Linked DNA regions of Homo sapiens: all the other regions are linked to region 2. The links come from fine-mapping of genetic effects on gene expression. A gene starts in region 2. Each other region holds a variant in brackets. All regions are shown on one strand. Distances are from middle to middle. Region 1 overlaps PRKD2 (protein kinase D2). Region 2 holds the start of PRKD2 (protein kinase D2). Region 3 overlaps PRKD2 (protein kinase D2).

Evidence for each region. PIP is the estimated chance that this variant, and not a neighbour inherited with it, causes the effect. A credible set is the group of variants that fine-mapping cannot tell apart.
Region 1: its variant is the best candidate, but not a certain one, in a credible set for the expression of PRKD2 in prefrontal cortex (BrainSeq, PIP 0.55).
Region 3: its variant is the best candidate, but not a certain one, in a credible set for the expression of PRKD2 in amygdala (GTEx, PIP 0.54).

The regions. Positions count from the first base shown.
Region 1 is chr19:46,681,668-46,689,083 of GRCh38, reverse strand. PRKD2 (protein kinase D2) reads left to right here. Exons shown (of 18, transcript NM_016457.5): 15 at 7,336-7,416. It also overlaps the pseudogene RN7SL364P. Among named protein-coding and RNA genes, the nearest start is that of MIR320E, 24 kb to the left of the region's middle. The variant TG/G (reference allele first, on the strand shown) is at 3,825.
Region 2 is chr19:46,712,003-46,719,343 of GRCh38, reverse strand. It overlaps PRKD2 (protein kinase D2), which reads left to right and starts at 2,230. Exons shown (of 18, transcript NM_016457.5): 1 at 2,230-3,213; 2 at 5,343-5,481. The coding sequence starts at 2,974. It overlaps LOC107987269, which reads left to right. Exons shown (of 4, transcript XM_017027568.2): 1 at 1-698; 2 at 842-991; 3 at 1,368-1,545; 4 at 2,167-2,810. The coding sequence starts at 281. The coding sequence ends at 2,533. RefSeq lists enhancers at 935-984, 4,496-4,795 and silencers at 2,105-2,264, 2,285-2,334, 4,986-5,215.
Region 3 is chr19:46,671,010-46,678,243 of GRCh38, reverse strand. It overlaps PRKD2 (protein kinase D2), which reads left to right. Exons shown (of 18, transcript NM_016457.5): 17 at 3,126-3,211; 18 at 3,509-3,928. The coding sequence ends at 3,721. It overlaps DACT3-AS1 (DACT3 antisense RNA 1), which reads right to left. Exons shown (of 3, transcript NR_040042.1): 3 at 788-1,104. Among named protein-coding and RNA genes, the nearest start is that of DACT3, 13 kb to the right of the region's middle. The variant C/T (reference allele first, on the strand shown) is at 4,621.

The sequences.
Region 1 (7,416 bases), 30 kb after region 2:
TAATAGAAAAAATAAGCCGGGCATGGTAGCACGTGTCTGTGGTCTCAGCTACTCAGGAGGCTGAGGCAGGAGGATCACTTGATCCCAGGAGTTCTGTGCTGATCAGGTGTCCTCATTAAGTTTGGCATCCATGTGGTGACCTCCCAGGAGTGGGGGACCACCAGGTTGCAAAGCAGCCCAGGTTGGAAATGGAGCAGGTCAAAGCTCTCTTACTGATCAGTAGTGGGATCACATCTGTGAAGAGGCATTGCACTCCAGCCTGGGCAACATAGCGAGACCCCGCCTCTAAAAAGAAAGAAAGAAAAAAGAAAAATAATAGTGACAATAACAATTAAAAATAAAGAGTATGCCAGGCGCGGTGGCTCACGCCTGTAATCCCAACACTTTGGGAGGCCAAGGCGGGTGGATCACCTGAGGTCAGGAGTTTGAGACCAGCCTGGCCAACATGGTGAAACCCTGTCTCTACTAAAAATACAAAAATTAGCTGAGCATGGTGGCAGGCACCTGTAATCATAGCTACTTGGGAGGCTGAGGCAGGAGAATCCCTTGAGCCCAGGAGGCAGAGGTTACAGTGAGCTGAGATCGTGCCATTGTACTCCAGCCTGGGGGACAAGAGTGAAACTTCGTCTCAAAAAAAAAAATAATAATAATAATAATAATAAAGAGTAATCATAATAATAGAAAAAAATAGACTAGCGGTAATGATAGCTATTTTTATTATAAAAAATAAATGATCAGTCAGGCTCCCTGGACCTGACTTGACTCATCTAGAAAAAAGGGGAGTCAGGCATGGTGGGGTACACCTGTAATCCCAGCTACTCAGGAAGCTAAGGCCAGAGGATTGCTTAAGCCCAGGAGTTTGAGCCAGCCTGGGCAACATAGCAAGAGCCCATCTCAAAAACAGGCTGGCTCATGCCCGTAATCCCAGCGCTTTGGGAGGCCAAGGCAAGAGGATCGCTTGAAGCCAGGAGTTGGAGACCAGCCTAGGCGACATAGTGAGATCCCACCTCTACAAAAAGTAAAAAAAAAAATAGAAAACCTAGCTGGATGTGGTGCCTGGTAGCACATGTCTGTAGTCCTAGCTGCTTGGGAGGAAGGGAGTGGAGAGGCTCTCTTGAACCTAGGTGGTTGAGGCTGCAGTGAGCTATGACCGTGCCACTGCACTCCAGCCTGGGTGACAGAGCGAGACCGTGTCTCAAAACCAAACAATAGAAAAAACGGGCAAGCAGCCCTTTTTCTCTCATTCATTCATTCAGTTGGTCAACAAACACTCCCTAGTCCCTGCTCTGTGCTTGGTCCCTTGCTGGTCAGTGTTGAGGACACAGGGATGACCAATACAGCCCCATTCTTAGACAGTGATAGCTCAGGTGAGCAGGGCTAGGACAAGGGAGGCTGATAATGGTGATGATAAATAATGTGGTCACTAACATTTATTGAGCACTTACTATGTGCCAAGCACTCTTCAAACTCATTTAATCTTCATAGTAACCTGTGCAGTAGGTGCTATTATTATCAATCCCCTTTTATGGTTGAAGAAACTGAGGGTCAGAGACATCAAATATCTTGTCCAGGGTCACATAGCTGGTGGGATTTGAACCTAGGATCTTTGCTTTTAACTAGTGATGTCAAACTCATTTGTGTTACATTCAAACAGATTTTCCTTGTGTGCCTGTGCTTTTTGTTTGTTTTTTTGAGACAGGGTCTCGCTCTGTCACCCGAGCTGGAGTGCAGTGGTACAATCATGGCTCACTGCAGCCTTGACCTCCCGGGTTCAAGCAATTCTCCTGCCTCAGCCTCCTGAGTAGCTGAGACAACAGGCATCAGCCATCACACCCAGCTAATTTTTATAAAGACATTTTTATAAAGACTTGCTATGTTGCCCAGGCTGGTCTTCAACTCCTGGGCTCAAGTGATCCTCCTGACTCGGCCTCAGCCTCGCAAAGTTCTGGGATTACAGGTGTGAGCCACTGTGCCCGGCCTCTGTTCTGCGTTTCTTTTTTTTTGGTGGAGGTGCACATTAGATTCTTATCACTTATATTGTTCAATGGTTTTATCCCAGTGTTTGCCTCTTTATTTTATATTTAGTTTTTATTTACCATAGGGTTTTATTTATTTTATTTTTTATTTTTTTTTGAGACGGAGTCTTGCTCTATTGCCCAGGCTGGAGTGCAGTGGCACCATCTCGGCTCACTGCAAGCTCCGCCTCCCAGGTTCACACCATTCTCCTACCTCAGCCTCCCAAGTAGCTGGGACTACAGGTGCCCACCACCACGCCCGGCTAATTTTTTGTATTTTCAGTAGAGACAGGGTCTCACTGTGTTAACCAGGATGGTCTCGATCTCCTGACCTCGTGATCCACCCGCCTCGGCCTCCCAAAGTGCTGGGATTACAGGTGTGAGCCACCGCGCCTGGCCTATTTTATTTTTTTTTTTGAGACAGGGTCTCATTTTGTCACCCAGGCTGGAGTGCAGTGGTGTAATCATAGTTCACTGCAGCCTCAAACTCCTAGGCTGAAGCAATTCTCCTATCTCAGCCTCCTGAGTTAACTGGAACCACAGGCATGAGCCACCACGTCCAGCTAATTTTTTTTTTTTTTTTTTTTAATGTTTTTGTAGAGACAAGGTCTCGCCATGTTGCCCAGGCTGGTCTTGAACTCCTGGGCTCGAGCGATCCTCCCATCTCAGTCTCCTGAGTTAGCTGGAACCACAGGCATGAGCCATTACACCTGGCTAATTTTTTTTTATGTTTTTGTAGAGACAGGGTCTTGCCATGTTGGGTCTCGAACTCCTGGGCTTAAGTGGTCCTCTTGCTGCAGCCTCCCAAAGTTCTGGGTTACAGGCATGAGCCACTGCGTCCAGCCGGCCATAGAGTGGAACTTTTACGATGTTAAATATCCCCTTGTGTGGTTTCTGTGTTTCACATCCTTCCTAGAAAGGCTTCCTTCTGGTGGGTGCCTTGCCTTCTTCTGAGACATCTCTGTGGGTCTCAGAGCCATCGTTGCTGTGTTCCCTTTACCCTGGCCCAGCACCCTTATCCTCTCAGGCAGTGTGCCTGTGTTTGTCAGGCTGGCTTATGGGGTGGGGACAGAAACCCACTGATGCACCCTCATCCAGACTTTATTATTTATGTATTTTTGAGACAGAGTCTCGCTTTGTTGCCCAGGCTGGAGCGCAGTGACACGATCTCGGCTCACTGCACCCTCTGCCCCCTGGGTTCAGGTGATTCTCCTACCTCAGCCTCCCGAGTAGCTGGGATTATAGGTGTGTGCCACCATGCCTGGCTAATTTTTGTAATTTTAGTAGAGATGGGGTTTCATCATGTTGCCCAGGCCAGTCTCAAACTCCTGACCTCAAGTCATCTGCCTGCCTCAGCCTCCTGAAGTGCTGGGATTACAGGCATGAGCCATCGTGCCCGGCCACATCCAGACTTCAGGTGTGGAAAGGAATCATGGTTCTCACAGGTGGCTGCTTTCAGCAGCTGAGGGGGTTTCTCTTTCTGGCCTTCATCTCTTCCTCTCTTTTTGCCTGCTCGCTCTTCTTTCTCTCTCTCTCTCTCTCTGCAGATTTCTGCTTTCTGGGCTCTTGCCTGCCCCACACCTAAGCCCTGTGCTAAGCCCTTTACCTCCTGAGCTTATGTAGGCCTCACCACCATCCTAGGAGGTAGGTATTGTTATAAACCCCATTTTATAGATGAGGAAACTGAGGCTCAGGGAGATAGCAGTCTCCCTCGAGGTCACAGCCAAGTAGCTTTCCAGCCAAGATTTGAGTCTGGATCTATCTAGCTTCCAACCTGCCCTCTTTCTTTTCTTTTTTTTTTTTTTTTTT[TG/G]AGACGAAGTCTCACTCTGTCACCCAGGCTGGAGTGCAATAGTACAGTCTCAGCTCACTGCAACCTCTGCCTCCCAGGTTCAAACAATTGTCCCACCTCAGCCTCCTGAGTAGCTGGGACTACAGGTGCGTCCCAGTACACCGGGCTAATTTTTGTATTTTTAGTAGAGACGGGGTTTCACTATGTTGGCCAGGCTAGTCTTGAACTTCTGACCTCGTGATCCACCCGCCTCAGCCTCCCAAAATGCTGGGATTACAGGCGTGAGCCACCATATCCGGCCAATGTTTTTTTTTTTTGAGATGGAGTCTCGCTCTGTTGCCCAGGCTGGAGTGCAGTGGCGCTATCTCAGCTCACTGCAACCTCTGCCTCCCAGGTTCAAATGATTCTCCTGCCTCAGCCTCCTGAGTAGCTGGGAACACAGGCACACGCCACCATTCCTGGCTGATTTTTGTATTTTTAGTAGAGATGGGGTTTCACCATGTCGATCAGGCTGGTCTTGAACTTTTGATCTCGTGATCTGCCCGCCTCAGCCTCCCAAAGTGCTGGGATTACAGGCGTAAGCCACCGTGCCCGGCCTAACCTGCCCTCTTTGTTCACATGAACTGGGAGAAAATCAACTGACAAAATCTGGAAATGGGCGGGGCGAGGTGGCTCACGCCTGTCATCCTAGAACTTTGGGAGGCCAAGGCAGATGGATCACCTGAGGTCAGGAGTTTTGAGACCAGCCTGGCCAACATGGTGAAATCCCATCTTTACTAATAATACAAAAATTAGCCAGGTGTGGTGGCATTCACCTGTAATCCCAGCTACTGGGGAGGCTGAGGCACAAGAATTGCTTGAACCTGGGAGGTGGAATTTGTGGTGAGTCGAGGTCATGCCGTTGCACTCCAGCGTGGGCAACAGAGTGAGACTCCATCTCAAAAAAACAATCTGGAGATGACATATACAACACATGCATCTTTCCAGCTTGGTCTCCCAGTCTGTAGAATGAGGAGGTTGGTCAGGCATGGTGGGTCGTGCCTATTATCTCAAGGTTTGGGTAGCTGAGGTGGGAAGATCATTTGAGGCCAGGAGTTTAAGACCAGCCTGGGCAACATAGCGAGATGCCATCTCTACAAAAAGATTTTTTTAAAAAAGAAAACAATCAGAATAAACACAAGTATTTAAACTCTGAGACAGATACACAAGTATTTAAACTCCGAGACAGATAATAATTGCAGTTGTACAATTGCTTCTGGTGTACTTGGCATTTTGAGTTACAGAGAATCAAGAAATATGATTCTCACAGATGAATGGTTACAAATGGTAATTTTTTTTTTAATCAGCTCACCTTATCATAGGAACAGATACAGCAGGAGAAGCTTTATTTAAGAGACACAAACAAATATATTTACCAACAAGCCATCACAAAAATAATAACTAATAACAACAACAGTAACAGCTAACATACAGTGGTTAGCTATCCTAAGCGTTTTACATGCATCTTTAGATATGCTTTAAACCTTATAGCAACCTGTAAGGTTGGTACTCTTTTTTTTTCTGAGATGGCATCTCACTCTGTCGCCCAGGCTGGAGTGCAATGGCGCGATGTCGACTCACTGCAACCTCCACCTCTCCAGTTCAAGCGATTTTCCTGCCTCAGCCTCCCGAGTAGCTGGGACTACAGGCGCCCACCACCACGCCTAATTTTTGTATTTTTAATAGAGGCAGGGTTTTGCTATGTTGGCCAGGATGGTGTCTAACTCCTGACCTCAGGTGATCCACCTGCCTCAGCCTTCCAAAGTGCTGAGATTACAGGCATGAGTCACCATGCCCAGCCAAAGTTTTTTGTAAGGATGAAAAATATTTTTTTTAAAAATGAAATCAGGCTGGGCACAGTGGCTCACGCCTATAATCCCAGCACTTTGGGAGGCCAAGGTTGGTGGATCACGAGGTCAGGAGTTCAAGACCAGCCTGACCAACATGATGAAACCCCGTCTCTACTAAAAATACAAAAATTAGCCGGGCATGGTGGTGTGTGCCTGTAATCCCAGCTGCTCAGGAGGCTGAGGCAGGAGAATCAGGAGGCCTTCTCAAAAAAAAAAAAAAAAAAGGAATCAAAGCCCGACATGGTGGTGGTGGCACATGCCTGTAGTCCTAGCTATTTGGGAGACTGAGGCTGGAGGATCACTTAACCCCAGGAGTTTGAGGCTGTAGAATGATACTGCACTTCAGCCTGGGTGACAGAGGGAGACTCCATCTCTTCAAAAAAAAAATGGGTGAGGTGGGGTGGCTCACGCCTGTTATCCAAGCACTTTGGGAGGCTGAGGTGGGTGGATCACTTGAGTGCAGGAGTTTGAGACCAGCCTGGGCAACATGGTGAGACACTGTCTCTACAAATACAAAAATTAGTCAGGTGTGATGGTGTGTGCCTATAATCCCAGTTACTAGGGAGGTTGAGGTGGGAGGATGGATTTAGCCTGGGAGGTCGAGGTGCAGTGAGCTGTGATCCCGCCTCTGTGCTCTGGCCTGAGTGACAGAGCAAGACTCTGTCTCAAAAAAAAAAAAAAAAAAAAAATAGAATCACATAGTTGGATCTTGGAAATGCCTGCTCTGTCAGTAGCATTCAGGAGTTTACCACATGCTAGAAGATCTTGGGATCTTCACAGCCCCACTCATCTAGCCCAGACTTTCTAGTTTACATTTAACTCTTATCTCTCAGATGTAAATGGTTCTATGATTCTGAGATTCTTTGGTGCTCCAGTGCCTCCTGTTTCCCTGGCTGGGGTGTCTGCAGGGGTGTGTAGGAAGGCATGGATGGGGCCAGGCGCAGTGGCTCACTCACGCCTGTAATCCCAGCATTTTGGGAGGCCAAGGTGGGTGGATCACTTGAGTCCAGGAGTTTGAGACCAGCCTGGTCAACATGGTGAAACCCTGTCTCTACTAAAAATAAAAGAAAAAATTATCAGAGCAAGTCTGGGCCCGGTGGCTCACGCCTGTAATCCCAGCACTTTGGGAGGCCGAGGTGGGGAAATCACGAGGTCAGGAGTTTGAGACCAGCCTGGCCAACATGGTGAAACCCCATCTCTACTAAAAATAGAAAAAATTAGCTGGGCATAGTGGCCAGCGCCTGTAATCCCAGCTACTCGGGAGGCTGAGGCAGGAGACTCACTTGAGCCCTGGAGGTAGAGGTTGCAGTGAGCCGAGATCGTGCCACTGCACTCCAGCCCAGGCGACAGAGTGAGACTCCGCCTCAAAAAGAAAAAAAAAAATTAGCTGGGCATGGTGGTGCACGCCTGTAGTCCCAGCTACTTGGGAGGCTGAGGCAGGAGAATCACTTGAACCCAGGAGGTAGGGGTTGCAGTGAGCTGAGATCATGCCACTGCACTTCCAGCCTGGGCTACAGAGCGAGACTCTGTCTCAAAAAAAAAAAAAAAAAAGTATGGATGGGTTTGGAGGGCTGGCTGCTGAGGTTGGGATTTGGCTGAGTACCTATCTACCTTTCTTACTGGGCCCATCTGCTCCCCTCAGATCCTGGTGGCTTTGAGACACCTTCACTTCAAGAACATTGTCCACTGTGACTTGAAACCAGAAAACGTGTTGCTGGCATCA
Region 2 (7,341 bases):
GGAGAGAAGTGGAGGCACTGGACCGAATCTCCTTGTGCCCTTTCTGTCCCTAAGTGCTCCCTCCCCAGGGGTAGAGCCCTGGGGAGCAGATACTATGATGACAGTCCAGCTGAAGCCTCAGCCCCGCCTGGGATGTGTGAGGGTGGTGGCGAGGCCAAAGGGCTGGTGCCCAGAGGACGTAAACCCCCTTCCTGTTCCCATCCCAGGCCCACAAGGAGCAGGGAGGGAAAAGGCTGCACCTGCCAGTGGAGGATGATGGCTTTGGGGCGCAGGCTCCTCCATGCTGGGAGGAGGTGCCGCAGGTGCCCGAGCCCTCGTGGCTCATGTCCTGATGCGTCCCTCCTTTCCCTTCTCAGTGGTCCACGTCTACTGTACTGAGTGCTTTACATGGCATTTCACTGGGTCCACAGCCTTAAAAAGAGGGAGCAGGTGTCCACATGCTCCAGATGAGACGGAGGGGACCGCTGCTCCTGTCTCGAGGAGGCTTCCACCACCTACCAGCCAGGCGTCCTCGGTAATCCTAGCACCTCTGCCACAGGGCACTAATGCCCAGTTCCTGGGTTGTAAAGGGCTGTGCCCCAGTCCCCCAGCAGGCCCCAGTGAACATACGAGAAAGGATGGAGGCCGCTGTCTGGACACTCAGGACATGGCAGCGTTTTGCTGGGACAGTCATCTGCCCTTCAGGAAAAAGGGTGCAGGTGGGCAGGAGGCCCTTAGATGACGCCAAGGGGAGCCTTCGTGGGCTCCACGTGGTGTGCTCCCTGCCCATCCCTCTGGGCTCAATGCAGTTCCCCAGGTGGTGGTTTGGGTTTTCACTCCAGCCTCAGACTTCCTTCCTCAGCCCCAGCCCCCGGATGTGGTGACAGAATCGATACTGTACCGACCTCAGCTACCCCCAACGGCCGTACACCAGGAAGAGGGGCTCTTCTGGCAGCCCCCATCCTCAGCCAGCCCTGCCATTTCCAGTCCTGCCAGCATCCCAGCCAGACAGGTGGCCCTTCTCTTAGAGCTCAAACCTAGGCCTTGACTTGTCAATCAAAGGGGTGGGTGGGGCAGCTTCCCTCAAGCAACTTCACTCTGGGATCTTGGGCAAGACGTTTTGCTTCTCTGAGGCTTCAGCTTATTCTGTGTAAACTAAATGGTAGCCACTATTTGATTATTAGCTGGGGAGGAGAGATCAAGCCTGACCCCTGTAGCGGCTGGAGTTTTACAGCAGGGCCCACCCAGCACCCAGTAGGTCCTCACAGATACTTGCTGGGTGACTGAATGGGTGTGCCCACCCATCAAAGCCTGAGTGCTGGAGGTGGCCACCCCTTTCCGCGTATTATCAGAGACAACCACCTCTTACTGAACTGCTGCGTTTCCAGGCACCAGTATACCATGGCATCGGCTCCCACCATCCCATGTGGGGTCAGTCCTATTACAGTCCCAACAGATGGAGGGACTGAGGCTCACAGAGAAGCCACTCACCCAAAGTCACATGGAGAGAAAGACACGCACACGTACTCCACATCCCCAGGAGACACACTCTGCATCTATGAAGTGGTATGGGTGTGCTGTCCTCCCTCGGGGCAGCCCCACACTATCCTAAGGCGGGGTTGGGGTGGGCGGGGGGATGGACCCTCCCCACCCATCCAGTTAGCGCCATGCACCTTGCCCACCATCGCTGGAGACAGACCTAAGGCGAGCCCCTTCCTACCCATCTGGAGGCCTCGGTCTTTCCATGTGTTAAATGGGCTGGGGCCGGGGGACGCTCTGCAGCACCCCCTTCCCTGGGCTGGGACGCGGCGGGGAGGGCAGGGGTGACGCTCGGAGAACAGAGAGGCCGAACCCAGAGAGCGGGCCGGGACCTGATACCGATTTCCCACCCGTCCCCTGCCATGGGCGCCGGACGCCTGCCGGAGAGGGCTCCCCTCCTTAAAGGGCCAGTGGCCTCCAAGCCCGACGCCTGCGACCGGCGGTGGGTGATAGTGTTTCCCCTCCCTGTCCAGCCGAGGGAAAAGTTAACTTTCCAGGCTTGGCTGTGTTCAGGGAAGGAACTGGTCTCGCCTGCCTGCCCTCCATCCCTCACACCATCCCTTGTCCCGGACCCTGGAGGCGGAGGTCCAGCCCCCAACTCGGAGGCCCCGGGCCCACCCTCCCCTTCCGCCCCCGGCCCCTCGGCAGGCTCCGCCCCTCTCTGACGTCGCCGAGGCCCGCGCCGATTGGTCGACTGCACTGTCGCTCCGGACACTTCCTCCTGGGCCGCCGCCGCCGCCGCCGACTTAAACTTTGGAGGGGGAAAAAGAGCTACTGGCGCCTGGCGACCCTCCCTGCCCCCCACCCAACCCCGCTCCGGCAACGCCCCCTTCCTCACGGCTCCCGACCGAACTTTTCTCCAACTTCTGCGACTCGTGAGATTCCCTTCTACCCACTCCGGCCCTCGGGACCCCTCTGCCCATCCCCTGGCCGGTCGGGTCCCTGCGAACCCCTTTATCTCTGGAATCCACTCGGTCCCCGACTCAGAGACTCCTGCCCTCCACCCCCAAGGTGAATTCCCCCGGGCCGCCTTCTGAGTGGGATCCTCTTCTTGGAGCACTGGATCCTGGGATTCCCTCTGCCCCCTTCTCAATCCCTCCTCTAGGGAAGGGGCCTTTGAATCGCGGGCTCTCCTGATCCCTGTGACCCCGACCTACTAGATTTCCTCTCAGGCTTCTTGGAATCTCAATCGCTGGGACCTCCAACCCACTACTTTTCTCCTTTCTGATCTTCTGGGAGCCCTGGATTCCGGGCCTCTGACCCACTATAGTGCCTTTCTCTCCTTCCCAGGACCCCGCCATCCTCAGGTCCCCTCCGCCTGCCAGATCTTTTCTCGGATCCCCGCTCTCCCACCACCTGCTCACGAGATCCCGCGGATCTAGAACCCAGGGTCCCCCGGGGCCCCCCGGCCGGGTCCCGGGTGGGCTCCAGGCGGCCGGTCCCCGGCCTCCCCCCATGGCCACCGCCCCCTCTTATCCCGCCGGGCTCCCTGGCTCTCCCGGGCCGGGGTCTCCTCCGCCCCCCGGCGGCCTAGAGCTGCAGTCGCCGCCACCGCTACTGCCCCAGATCCCGGCCCCGGGTTCCGGGGTCTCCTTTCACATCCAGATCGGGCTGACCCGCGAGTTCGTGCTGTTGCCCGCCGCCTCCGAGCTGGCTCATGTGAAGCAGCTGGCCTGTTCCATCGTGGACCAGAAGGTGAGGGCGCAGGCTCCCTGGATCCAGCTCGGGGAGAGGTTGAAGGAGGGGGCGCTGGCAGAGGGGTCTGGGGCCTGGTGTGCGGAAGAGGGAGGAAGGAGACCTGAGCTTTGGGTGATGGAGGGATAGGGGGCATTGCCCCCCTCCATTGCCCCTCTCCCCACCATCCCTTTGAGAGAGGACTGGGCAGGGGTGGGGTGCCCCAGAGGCCTCCCCAAATTTCATGTCCCTGCATGTCGTTGTTTTCTGCAGCAAACAGGGAGGAAGGGAGGGGCCAGCCAGGTGTAGAGAGGGGAGGAAGGGGCAGCAGATGTCGGCGGACCTCCACGTCCAGGCCCATCCCGGGCCTCCCATTTGGTGGAAACAGGAGAAATTGAACCCGGGCTGGCCATGGTGATCCGGTGACATGTGTGGGTGCAGGTGCTTGAGTTAGCTGCCAGGGGCAAGTGAGGTCTCGGAGCCCAATTCTGCCCTCCCCTAAGCCTGAGATATGTGTGGAGGGGCAGGCACTCCTACAGACCCTGGGGACTCTATTCCCTTTCCTAGTCACAGTGCTGTTAGCCTACTCTTAATTTTGGACACCAGGGTCCCCAGGGTGGGCAGCTGGGTGTTATGGCAAGAGGAAACCAGGTGGAACTCCACGTCTAAACCGTGAAATGTTAAAAGAATAGTGGGCTTCTGTGTTGGAGTACTGGACTGTAGAAATGTTAGAATATTAGAATCATAACTTGTTGGAATATGCATCCTAGGCAATTAAATTGCCCCCATGTTCGTGTTCAAATATTAGAATTCTAGGTTTGTGAAATAGTAAAACATTAAAATGCTGGAATATTAGATTCCTAGATTGTTGAATCCTAGAAAGTTAAAATGTTAGAATTTTAGAATGCTGGATGGATGAGGTCCTTGAATGCTAAAGAATTCAAAGAGCACAGTCCTAGCTTGTCAGACTCCTAGAATATTAAAATATTAGATTACCGCTTATTTAGGTTATTGAAATCCTAAAATGTATAGTGATACCAGGTAGGAATCTAGAATGTATAATTCTATAATGTGAGCATGTTGGAGTCCCAAAATATCCAAATTCCAGAATCTTTTCAGACTCCTGGAAATGAATCCTTTGGGCATCAGAGAAACGTGGGGAACTGGGCCAGCTCCCCCATTCTACAGACAAGGAAACTGAAGCTTAGAGAAAAACTTCCCAAGGGGTCAGGGCCAAGGCAGTCCTGGTCTTCTGTGGACTCTCTCTTAGCAGTGAGAACTGATAGGGTTTTGCCCACCAAATGCCTCAATCCCGCAGGCCCAGCTCACCACCCCAACTCAGCCCACTTCATGGGAAGCTGGTGGCAGTGGGGGTACGGGGGCAGATTGTCCCTTGGGTGAACTTCTTTGTCCAGTGCTCAAGTCCCCAGCCTGCCCCGCTCAGGCTTCACCCCAGTTTTATTTTTCTGCCAGGTCCAGGTGTGTTAGGGCCGCTTACCTTCCTTCCCGAGGCCCCACCGGGGCAGTTTCACTTTCTGTTCTACTAGGTTTCATTTCCTGCCCCCAGGCCCCCAAAGCTGAGGACCCAGACACCTGGGTCCTTTGAGCATTGGGTGGCAGGCGCCCTCCTTATCTCCAGCGCCCTCGAGTCCAAGTCCCCCGGCCCCCCCCCCCACTTTCCCAGGAGCCCCGAAAAGTCCTCCTTCCAGCTCGCCCCACCCCAGTGCTGGGCCTGGAGCCAGGTAACTGGGACAACAATAGACAGATCCAGGAAGGAAGCTGGGGGGCGGGTGTGTGAGCCTGGGGAGGAGGCACAGGGGAGGGAGTGTTCATTCAGCATCCCCTCCCACCTCCGCCAGGTTCCGGAAAATTCGAGGTGTCCACGCTCCCGGAGCCACTCTCCCTCCCACCCCAGCTCCCCCTTCCAGCCACCAAACCCACGCCGGCGCCCCCTCCCCGTACAATTGGGGCGCTGGCATCCTGCCCGGCTCGCGCTGGGGTTGGGAGGGGGCAGGCAGGAAGCGAGGGCCTGCGGGGTCTCTGCGTTTCCGGGGGAAACAGCCGGCCCTGCCCTGGGAGGGTCACAGTCCGCCCGCTGCTGAAGGCGGCTCTGAGCTTTTCCGTCGCCACATCCCTCTCCCGCCCCTCAGTTCCCTGAGTGTGGCTTCTACGGCCTTTACGACAAGATCCTGCTTTTCAAACATGACCCCACGTCGGCCAACCTCCTGCAGCTGGTGCGCTCGTCCGGAGACATCCAGGAGGGCGACCTGGTGGAGGTGGTGCTGTCGGGTGAGAGGTGGTGGCCGGCCTGGGGGCGGGGCCTCGGGTGGGGGCGGGGCATCTGGGGGAGGAGAGGGTAGGGGGAGTTAGAAGTCAGGAGAGGCCGGGTGTAGTGGCTCACGCCTGTGATCCCAGCACTTTGGGAGGCTGAGCTGGAGCTGGGGGGATCGCTTGAGCCCAGGAGTTCGAGATCAGCCTGGGCAACATAGTGAGATTCCATCTCTACCCCTTTCTCTCCCTCTGAAAAAAAAAAATAAGGAGAGTTGGGGGCTTCTGGAAGATGGTTACAGAGTGGGGTCATGAAGGCGCTCTTTAGGGACTGGTCTAAACTTTCATTTATGGATTAGGATGCTAGTGACACGCTTTGTACAGTTTGAAAATTCATTGAGCTGTGCACTTGTGATGTGCGGCCTTTCCTGAACATATGTTATACTTATTTATTTATAAAACTAGTCAAGTGCAGTAGTTAGAAGGGGGAAAAGAGGAGAAGAAGGAGTTGGATCTGTAACTGACTGTGTTATGCTTAAATATAAAGGTAAAAAATGGGCCAGCTGCAGTGGCTCACACCTGTAATCCCAGCAGTTTGGGAGGCTGAGGTGGGAGGATCGCTGGAGCCCAGGAGTTTGAGACCAGCCTGGGCAACATAAGGAGACCCCATCTCTTAAAAAAAAAAAAAAAAAAAAAAGTTAACCGGGCGAGGTGGCACACGTCTGTAGTCTCAGCTACTTGGGAGGCTGAGGTGGGAGGATTTCTTGAGCTTAGGAGTTTGAGGCTGCAGTGAGCCACGATCATGTCACTGCACTCCAGCCTGGGCAACAGAGAGAGACCCTATCTCTAAAAAAGAAAAAAAGTAGAAAAAGAAAAAAAAAAGTTATGATGTCCATGGCTCCTGCCACGAAAATGCTAAATTAAATCAGAATCTCTGCAAAGTGAGATGGAATCTGCACATCAGTATTTTTAAAAGCCCCCAGGTGATTTTCTAAGACACAGCCAGAAGCCAGTTCATCCACTCACTATTCCAGTAGTATAGATGGGCATGCTCTCAGCACCTTAGAGCAGTCTATGGCCCTTGGTCCCTCTTGAGGGTGGGGGCAGCTGCCTTTTTCATGGCTGCCTTCCCTGCTGCTCCGGCATACTGCAGTGCCCAGTGAAACCGGCTCAATGAATGAATGACAGAAGTCTGGATTTACACCTTTAGTGACCTTGTTCAGGCTTTAAGTACTCTTTCATATCATAAGCTGGCCTCACTTGAATTTTTATCTTCATTGTTGTCTCTCCCCTAAACCTGAGTTTTGTTTTGTTTTTGTCATTTTTATTATTTTTTGTTTTTTTAGACGGAGTCTCGCTCTGTCACCCAGGCTGGAGTGCAGTGGCGCAAACTCAGCTTGCTGCAACCTCTGCCTCCTGGGTTCAAGCGATTCTCCTGCCTCAGCCTCCCGAGTAGCTGGGATTACAGGCGCCTGCTACCACACGTGGCTAATTTTTGTATTTTTAGTAGAGACGGGATTTCACCTTGTTGGCCAGGCTGGTCTCGAACTGCTGATCTTAAGTGATCTGCCCACCTCAGCCTCCCAAAGTGCTGCGATTACAGGTGTGAGCCACCGCTCCCGGCCCTGTTATTTTGTTTTGAGGCAGGGTCTTGTTCTGTCACCCAGGCTGGAATGCAGTGGCATGACCACCACTCACTGCAGCCTCTACCTCCCAGACTGAAGCAATCATCCCGCCTCAGCCTCCTGAGGTGGCTGGACTATAGGCATTACAGGCATGCACCACCACACTGGGCTTTTTTTTTTTTTCTTTTTTTTAGACAGAATCTTACTCTGTCACCCAGGCTGGAGTGCCGTGGCATGATCTTGGCTCACGGCAACC
Region 3 (7,234 bases), 41 kb after region 2:
TACAGGAGGAGCCGTCCTGTAAAAGATGGGCTGGGACTCAGGCCTAGACTAGGTTACTTGGGCTGGAAACCAAGTGCCCCAGAAGCGCTGAGGACACTTGGAACCTTAGGGGGGCTGAGTGAGACTTGGCTTGTCTAGGGTGGGACCAGGAAAGGGACTGGACTTGAGGGTACCAAAGGGCTGCGGTGACCAGGAGAAGGGGCTGAGCCTCCCAAGGCATTGGCTGGGACCTGGAGCCTTTGGGTTTACGACCCCAAAAGGGTCAGCCTTGCAAAAAGGAGGCACCGGTGGGTAGGGTTGAGAAACAAGGGCATGGCTACTTTGCTGTGTACTGGGGCCGTGACTTGGGTGAAGATGGGCCTGAAGCCTGGGGTCGGTTCAGTGACCAAGGGAGCCAGTCTAGGGACGTGGCCGTGGAGGGTTTCCGAAGAGGTCCAGGAACAGGGCTGACCCTGAGTCCTGGAAGCTGGGAGTGGATGGGAGTGGGGAGGAGAAGGGAGCCAGGACTGAGGCAGACATTGCACTCTGCATTCTGGGGCTTTGGTGTTGTGGCTGGGCCTGATGAAGTGGCACCGGGCCTGGTGACTTGAACCTACTTGGGAATGGGTCTGTAACTTTCCCTGCTTGGAAAAGTTAAGTCCTAAGGCCTGGAGCTTTGAGGCTGGGTGTGGGATGGCATGTTTAGAGGGCCAGAGGCAGGGCTAAGATACTGGGGTGTGTCAGAAGCCAGGAGAACAAGGGACCTGTGTTGGAGCCAGGGAGCTCAGGAAGACAGATGGAGTATGGGAAGGGGGGGGATCATTCATTCATTTATTTATAACCATTTATTCAACAAGTACATTCATGTATTTGTAACCATTGATTCAACATGTTGAGTGCCCACGATGTGCCAGGCATTGACTGTTCCAGCTCTGGGAATACTGTGATGACTTGGACAGAAGGGGTCAGGTGCAGGGTAGCTCATTGAGTGGTCCGCGAAGGGTGGAAAGGGGAAGGGTCCTCTCTGGAGGGTGCGGCTTCATGGAGCAGGTGGAGCAGGGTGACACGGAGGTTGCTCGGTGCAGGACAAGACAAGGTCTTGGTGGTGGTCTAAGAGCATGGGCCCTAAGCAGTGAGAATGTGGATTGACTTGAGTCCTGGAGTAATATTGGGGGTGCTCAACACTGGCTTTTTTTTTTTTTTTGAGGTGGGGTCTCGCTCTTTCACCCACGCTGGAGTGCAGTGGCGTGATCTCGGCTCACTGCAACCTCCACCTCTTGGGTTCAAGGGATTCTCCTGCCTCAGCCTCCCGAGTAACTGGGATTACAGGCACACAGCACCATGCCTGGCTCATGTTTTATATTTTTAGTAGAGACAGGGTTTCGCCATGTTAGCCAGGCTGGTCTTGAACTCCTGACCTCAAGTTATTTGCCCGCTTCAGCCTCCCAAAGTGCTGGGATTGCAGGCATAAGCCATCACACCCCGCCAGCATTGTCTTTTGAGACCCACTCAGAAGTCCCTCAGTAAAAGTGCATCGAGTGTGCACAAGTGAATTTAAGTGTGGTTGCACCTGTGTGAGGATCACAGAATCCTGTGGGTGTTGACGGGAGCAGGGTGCCTGTGTGCACCAGGCCTCTCCTCGGATGGGTTCATACAGTGAAGCCTTGTCCTTCATGGCTTCCCATCAAGGAGAGAGCCTCGGATGAGTGCTGGCTTGTCTTGAAGCTTGACATTCGCTAGTCCTCTTTTTCACAATGAACAGGCCTATCTCTGAGCCTTCTGCAGGCAATGGTGACTAACTACCATCTGATGACATTTTGTTTTGTTTTGTTTTGTTTTGAGACGGAGTTTCGCTTTTGTCACCCGGGCTGGAGTGCAGTGGCACGATCTTGGCTCACTGCAACCTCTGCCTCCTGAGTTCAAGCGATTCTGCCTCAGCCTCCTGAGTAGCTGGGACTACAGGCATGCGCTACCATGCCCAGCTAATTTTTTGTATTTTTAGTAGAGACGGGGTTTCCGTGTTGGCCAGGCTTGTCTCGAACTCCTGACCTCGGGTGATCCACCCGCCTCGGCCTCCCAAAGTGTTGGGATTACAGGCATGAGCCACCGCGCCCAGCCTGATGACATAGATGCTCCCTGATTTGCACTGGGGTTAGATAAACCTGATAAACCCATTGCCCATTGTAAATTGAAAATATCATAAGTTGGTCAGGCGCAGTGGCTGAAGCCCATAATCCCAGCACCTTGGGAGGCCAAGGTAGGCAGATTGCTTGAGCCCAGGAGTTCAAGACCAGCCTGGGCAATGTATCTCTACAAAAAATACAAAAATTAGCCGGCCATAGTGACAGGTGCTTGTAGTCCCAGCTGGCTGCTCAGGAGGCTAAGGCAGGAGAATCAATTAAGCTGGGGAGGTGGAGGCTTCAGTGAGCATTGATCACGCCACTGCACTTCAGCTTGGGTAACAATGAGACCCTGTCTCAAAAAAAAAAAAGGAAGTATTGTAGGTTGAAAATCCATTTAGGCCGGGCGCAGTGGCTCATGCCTGTAATCCCAACAATTTGGGAGGCCAAGGCAGGCGGATTGCTTGAGGTCAGGAGTTAGAGACCAGCCTGGCCAATATGGTGAAACCCCATCTCTACTAAAAATACAAAAAGTTAGCAGGACATGGTGACACACACCTGTATTCCTAGCTACTTGGGAGGCTGAGGCAGGAGAATCACATGAACCCGGGAGGCGGAGGTTGCAGTGAGCCAAGATCGTGCCATTGCACTCCAGCCTGGGCGACAGAGCGAGACTCTGTCTCAATAAATAAATAAGTAAAAATAAAAAGAATAGTACAGGTGTAATTGTATGTACCTGTATATGACAAAAAGAAAAAAAAAGGTGACATAGGGGAATGGGGAAATTGAAGTAGAGAACAGGTGAAGAGAGGGAGCTGGTGTGAACATGCATGGGCAGGAGGAGACAAATTTGTAATGTAATGAGGAAATGGGTGGGTGAGTGATTGGCACAGGTGAGGCTTCTGAGCCACCTGAGCTGGTGCAGAAGGAAGGTGTTGATGGCAGGCAGGTAGGCTAGGGGGTGCCTATTGGAGGAGGAGTGACCCTTGACCTGTAGGGCTTGACCTGTTTCTCTTTCCTGTGCAGCCATTGACCTCATCAACAACCTGCTGCAGGTGAAGATGCGCAAACGCTACAGCGTGGACAAATCTCTCAGCCACCCCTGGTTACAGGTGATGCAGGGGGCAGGGCTGGCCCATTGGCTGGATTGGAGGAAGGGGTGGGAGTAGATCGCTTATTGGCTAGGCAGGTTGTGAAGGATGTAGGTTTCCTTGGGTCTGGAATGTGGCTAGGCCTCCCATTGGCTGGGTGCAGGAAGAGGGGGTGGAGCTAAATGTCTACTGGCTGGGTGGGTTGCAGAGGGTATGGCTTCACCTTCATTGGTACCCAGCTCTCAGTGGCAAACCAGAGGATATCCAGGCACTGCTCCAATGCAGACCCCAAGCTAACCCCAGTTCTCTCGGGCCCAGGAGTACCAGACGTGGCTGGACCTCCGAGAGCTGGAGGGGAAGATGGGAGAGCGATACATCACGCATGAGAGTGACGACGCGCGCTGGGAGCAGTTTGCAGCAGAGCATCCGCTGCCTGGGTCTGGGCTGCCCACGGACAGGGATCTCGGTGGGGCCTGTCCACCACAGGACCACGACATGCAGGGGCTGGCGGAGCGCATCAGTGTTCTCTGAGGTCCTGTGCCCTCGTCCAGCTGCTGCCCTCCACAGCGGTTCTTCACAGGATCCCAGCAATGAACTGTTCTAGGGAAAGTGGCTTCCTGCCCAAACTGGATGGGACACGTGGGGAGTGGGGTGGGGGGAGCTATTTCCAAGGCCCCTCCCTGTTTCCCCAGCAATTAAAACGGACTCATCTCTGGCCCCATGGCCTTGATCTCAGCACACGGCACTCTCGAATCATTACTCTGTTGTACCAACATGGAGTTCATCTGGAAGGAGGACTGCCTGAAAAGAGGAAGGATGGAAGGGGTGGGGAGAGAGGACTGATGGGAGAGGAGTCTTGGAAGGAGGACGAGCTGGGGTAGAAAATATACAGGAAGAGTGCCAGGAGAGAAGATGAGAAGGGAGAGGGAGGAGTAATGGAGGAGGAGTTGGAAACTGGGGAGAGATGGAAGGAATGTGACTGGAGGGTAGAGAACTTGGAGAAAAAGTAATCTCATGGTTTGTGATGACTGATTTTTTATTTGGTGGTGGTGTTACTACTAATCACAACTATTAATTCAGGCTGGGTGTGGTGGCTCATGCCTATAATCCCAGCAATTTGGGAGGCCGAGGCAGGCAGATCCCTTAGATCTCAGGAGTTTGAGAGCAGCCTGGCCAACGTGGTGAAACTCCCTTTCTACAAAAAGTTCAAAAATTAGCCAAGTGTGGTGGCTTGCACCTGTGGTCCCAGCTACTTGGAGGTTGAGGCTAGAGGATCGCTTGAGCCCAGGAAGCAGAGATTGCAGTGAGCCAAGATCACACACCACTGCACTCTAGCCTGGGCAAGAGAGTGAGACCCTGTCTCAAAAGTCAAATAATAAAATGCAGTTAGCCCAAGTCTGATCCATACTAGAAAACTGATACGTAACATT[C/T]AGTATTTTATTTTATGTTGATGTGATGACTTCTCTATCTATGAAATAGAGAAGTATATATTCACTCATTCCTTTGTGTCACTGAGCTGGGTGATGCTGGGGACACAGTGGTGACTGAGACAGCCAAGGACTGCCCTGCCAGTAGAGAGACATACCTGCCCCTGGACAGTGATGACCCAGAACGGGAAGGGCTGGACTGGGGGAGTTTGGGAGGCTTGGGCAGCCTAGAATGAGCTCAGGGGTCAGAGAGAGTGGGGAATCAGAGGTGACCTCTTAGGCTTCATCTTGGCCTTGAAAGACTGAAGGCAGAGGGAATGAACTGGAGGGAACACGTATCCACCTCTCTCTACCTTTGACTCCAGCCCTCCACCTCCCCAGTTCTCCAGTAACACCCTAACACATGGTCCTCCACCTTCCACAGCTGAAGGTGAACGATCCGAGCATGGACCTGAACAAGTTTTCTTCAGACTTTCAGAACGCTCTGACTTACGTGCTGCAAAGACCTATCTGAAAGCTGGGCATGGTGGCGGGTGACTGTATTCCCAGCTACTTAAGCGGCTGAGGTGGGAGGATCGCTGGAGTCCAGGAGTTCGAGTCCAGTTTGGGCAACACAGCCTTAAAAAACCCAGGAAAACAGGAAAGAATTTAGTAGCCAATTTAGGCTAATACTGGGAGCTTACTCTGGGATTTTCCAATTTGATTTGTATCACCTTGTCCATCTGATGGTTCCAGAGCTGCAGCTTTTTTTTTTTTTCCTGAGGCAGGGTCTCTGTTTCCCAGGCTGGAGTGCAGTGGCATGAACACAGCTCACTGCAGCCTTGACCTTCTGGGCTCAAGTGATCCTCCCACCTCAGCCTCCTGAGTAGCTAGAACTACAGGCACATGCCACCATGCCCAGCTAATTTTTTGGATTTTTTGCAGAGGTTTTACCATGTTGCCCAGGCTGGTCTCAAACTCCTGGGCTCAAGCGATCTGCCTGCCTAGGCCTCCCAAAGTGCTGGGATTACATGCATGAGCCACTGCGCCTGGCCAAAATGCAGCTCTTTGATTTGAAAATGCTAAACGAGCCTCAGTAAATGAAGGTATCCAAAGGAGCAGTATACCTCTGAGGCATAGTTGCTAAGACTATTGGGGAAAGGCTCTTAGACTCCATCCCCAGTGCCTATCCCTCTGTTTAGTCTAAGGTCCAGAAGTGTAGGCAACATAGAGATGAATCCATCTCCCGTGACAGACCCAGGCTAGAAAATGTATGGAAAAGACTATCACCCCTGATCTGCTTCTGTCTTGGCCACTAGTTAATATCCAGAGACCAGAAATGAGAGACGTGATTCAAAAACATTCCTCAATTATAGAATTCCAGGAGATAGTGTATATCATGAGGATGCCATGAAAGATAAAATCAAGGCCGGGCGCAGTGGCTCACGCCTGTAATCTCAGCACTTTGAGTGCTGAGGTGGGTGGATCATCTGAGGTCAGGAGTTTGAGACCAGCCTGATCAACATGGAGAAACCCCGTCTCTACTAAAAATACAAAATTAGCCGGGCATGGTGGCACATGCCTGTAATCCCAGCTACTCGGGAGGTTGAGGCAGGAGAATCGCTTGAATCTGGGAGGCGGAGGTTGCGGTGAGCTGAGATCGTGCCACTGCACTCCAGCCTGGGCAACAAGAGCGAAACTCTGTCTCAAAAAAAAAAAAAAAAATCAAATCCATACAATGAAAACTTAGGGCCCTATAACTTAAATCATTAGAGACAAAAAGTTTATCCTATCAGGACCACTGGAATCACAAAACCTAATTTTGTTTGTTAGAGACAGGGTCTTGCTCTATCACCCAGGCTTCTGTGCAGTGGTATGATCGTAGCTCACTGCAGCCTCAAACTACAGGGTTCAAGCCATCCTCCCCCTCAGCCTCTTGAGTAGCTGGGACTACAGGCATGAGCCACCACACCTCGCTAATTTTTTGTTTTTTATGTAGTTTTTAATTTTTTTATTATTTTATTATTTTTTGAGATGGAATCTTGCTCTGTTGCCCAGGCCAAAGTGCAGTGGCATGATCACAGCTCACTGCAGCCTCAACCTCCTGGGCTCAAGTGATCTTCCCACCTCAGCCTCCCAAGTAGCTAAGACTACAGGCACATGCCACCACGCCCAGCTAATTTTTGTATTTTTAGTAGAGAAGGGGTTTTGCCATGTTGGCCAGGCTGGTCTCGAACTCCTGACCTCAAGTGATCTGCCCACCTCGGCCTCCCAAAGTGCTGGGATTACAGGCATGAACCACCGTGCCCGGGCATGTTTTTTATTTGTTATAGAGATGGGGTCTCACTATGTTGCCGAGGCTGGTCTTGAACTCCTGGGGTTGAACGATCCTCCACCTCTCAAAAGTGCTGGGATTACAGGTGTGGGCCACTGCACTCAACCTCAAAACCTAATGTTGATAGAGACACTTGTATATACTGTAAAGAAAAGGGACATTGGACTTGACACTATTTAGCTTTGAAATGCAAAAGGAATTTGAGTCTAAGATTCAGTCTCCCAGTGACTCACTTCCAGCCAACTTTCTCCTCTGTGTCTATAAGGATTCCTTAACCTTCAGGGGGAAATGACCATCAATCCC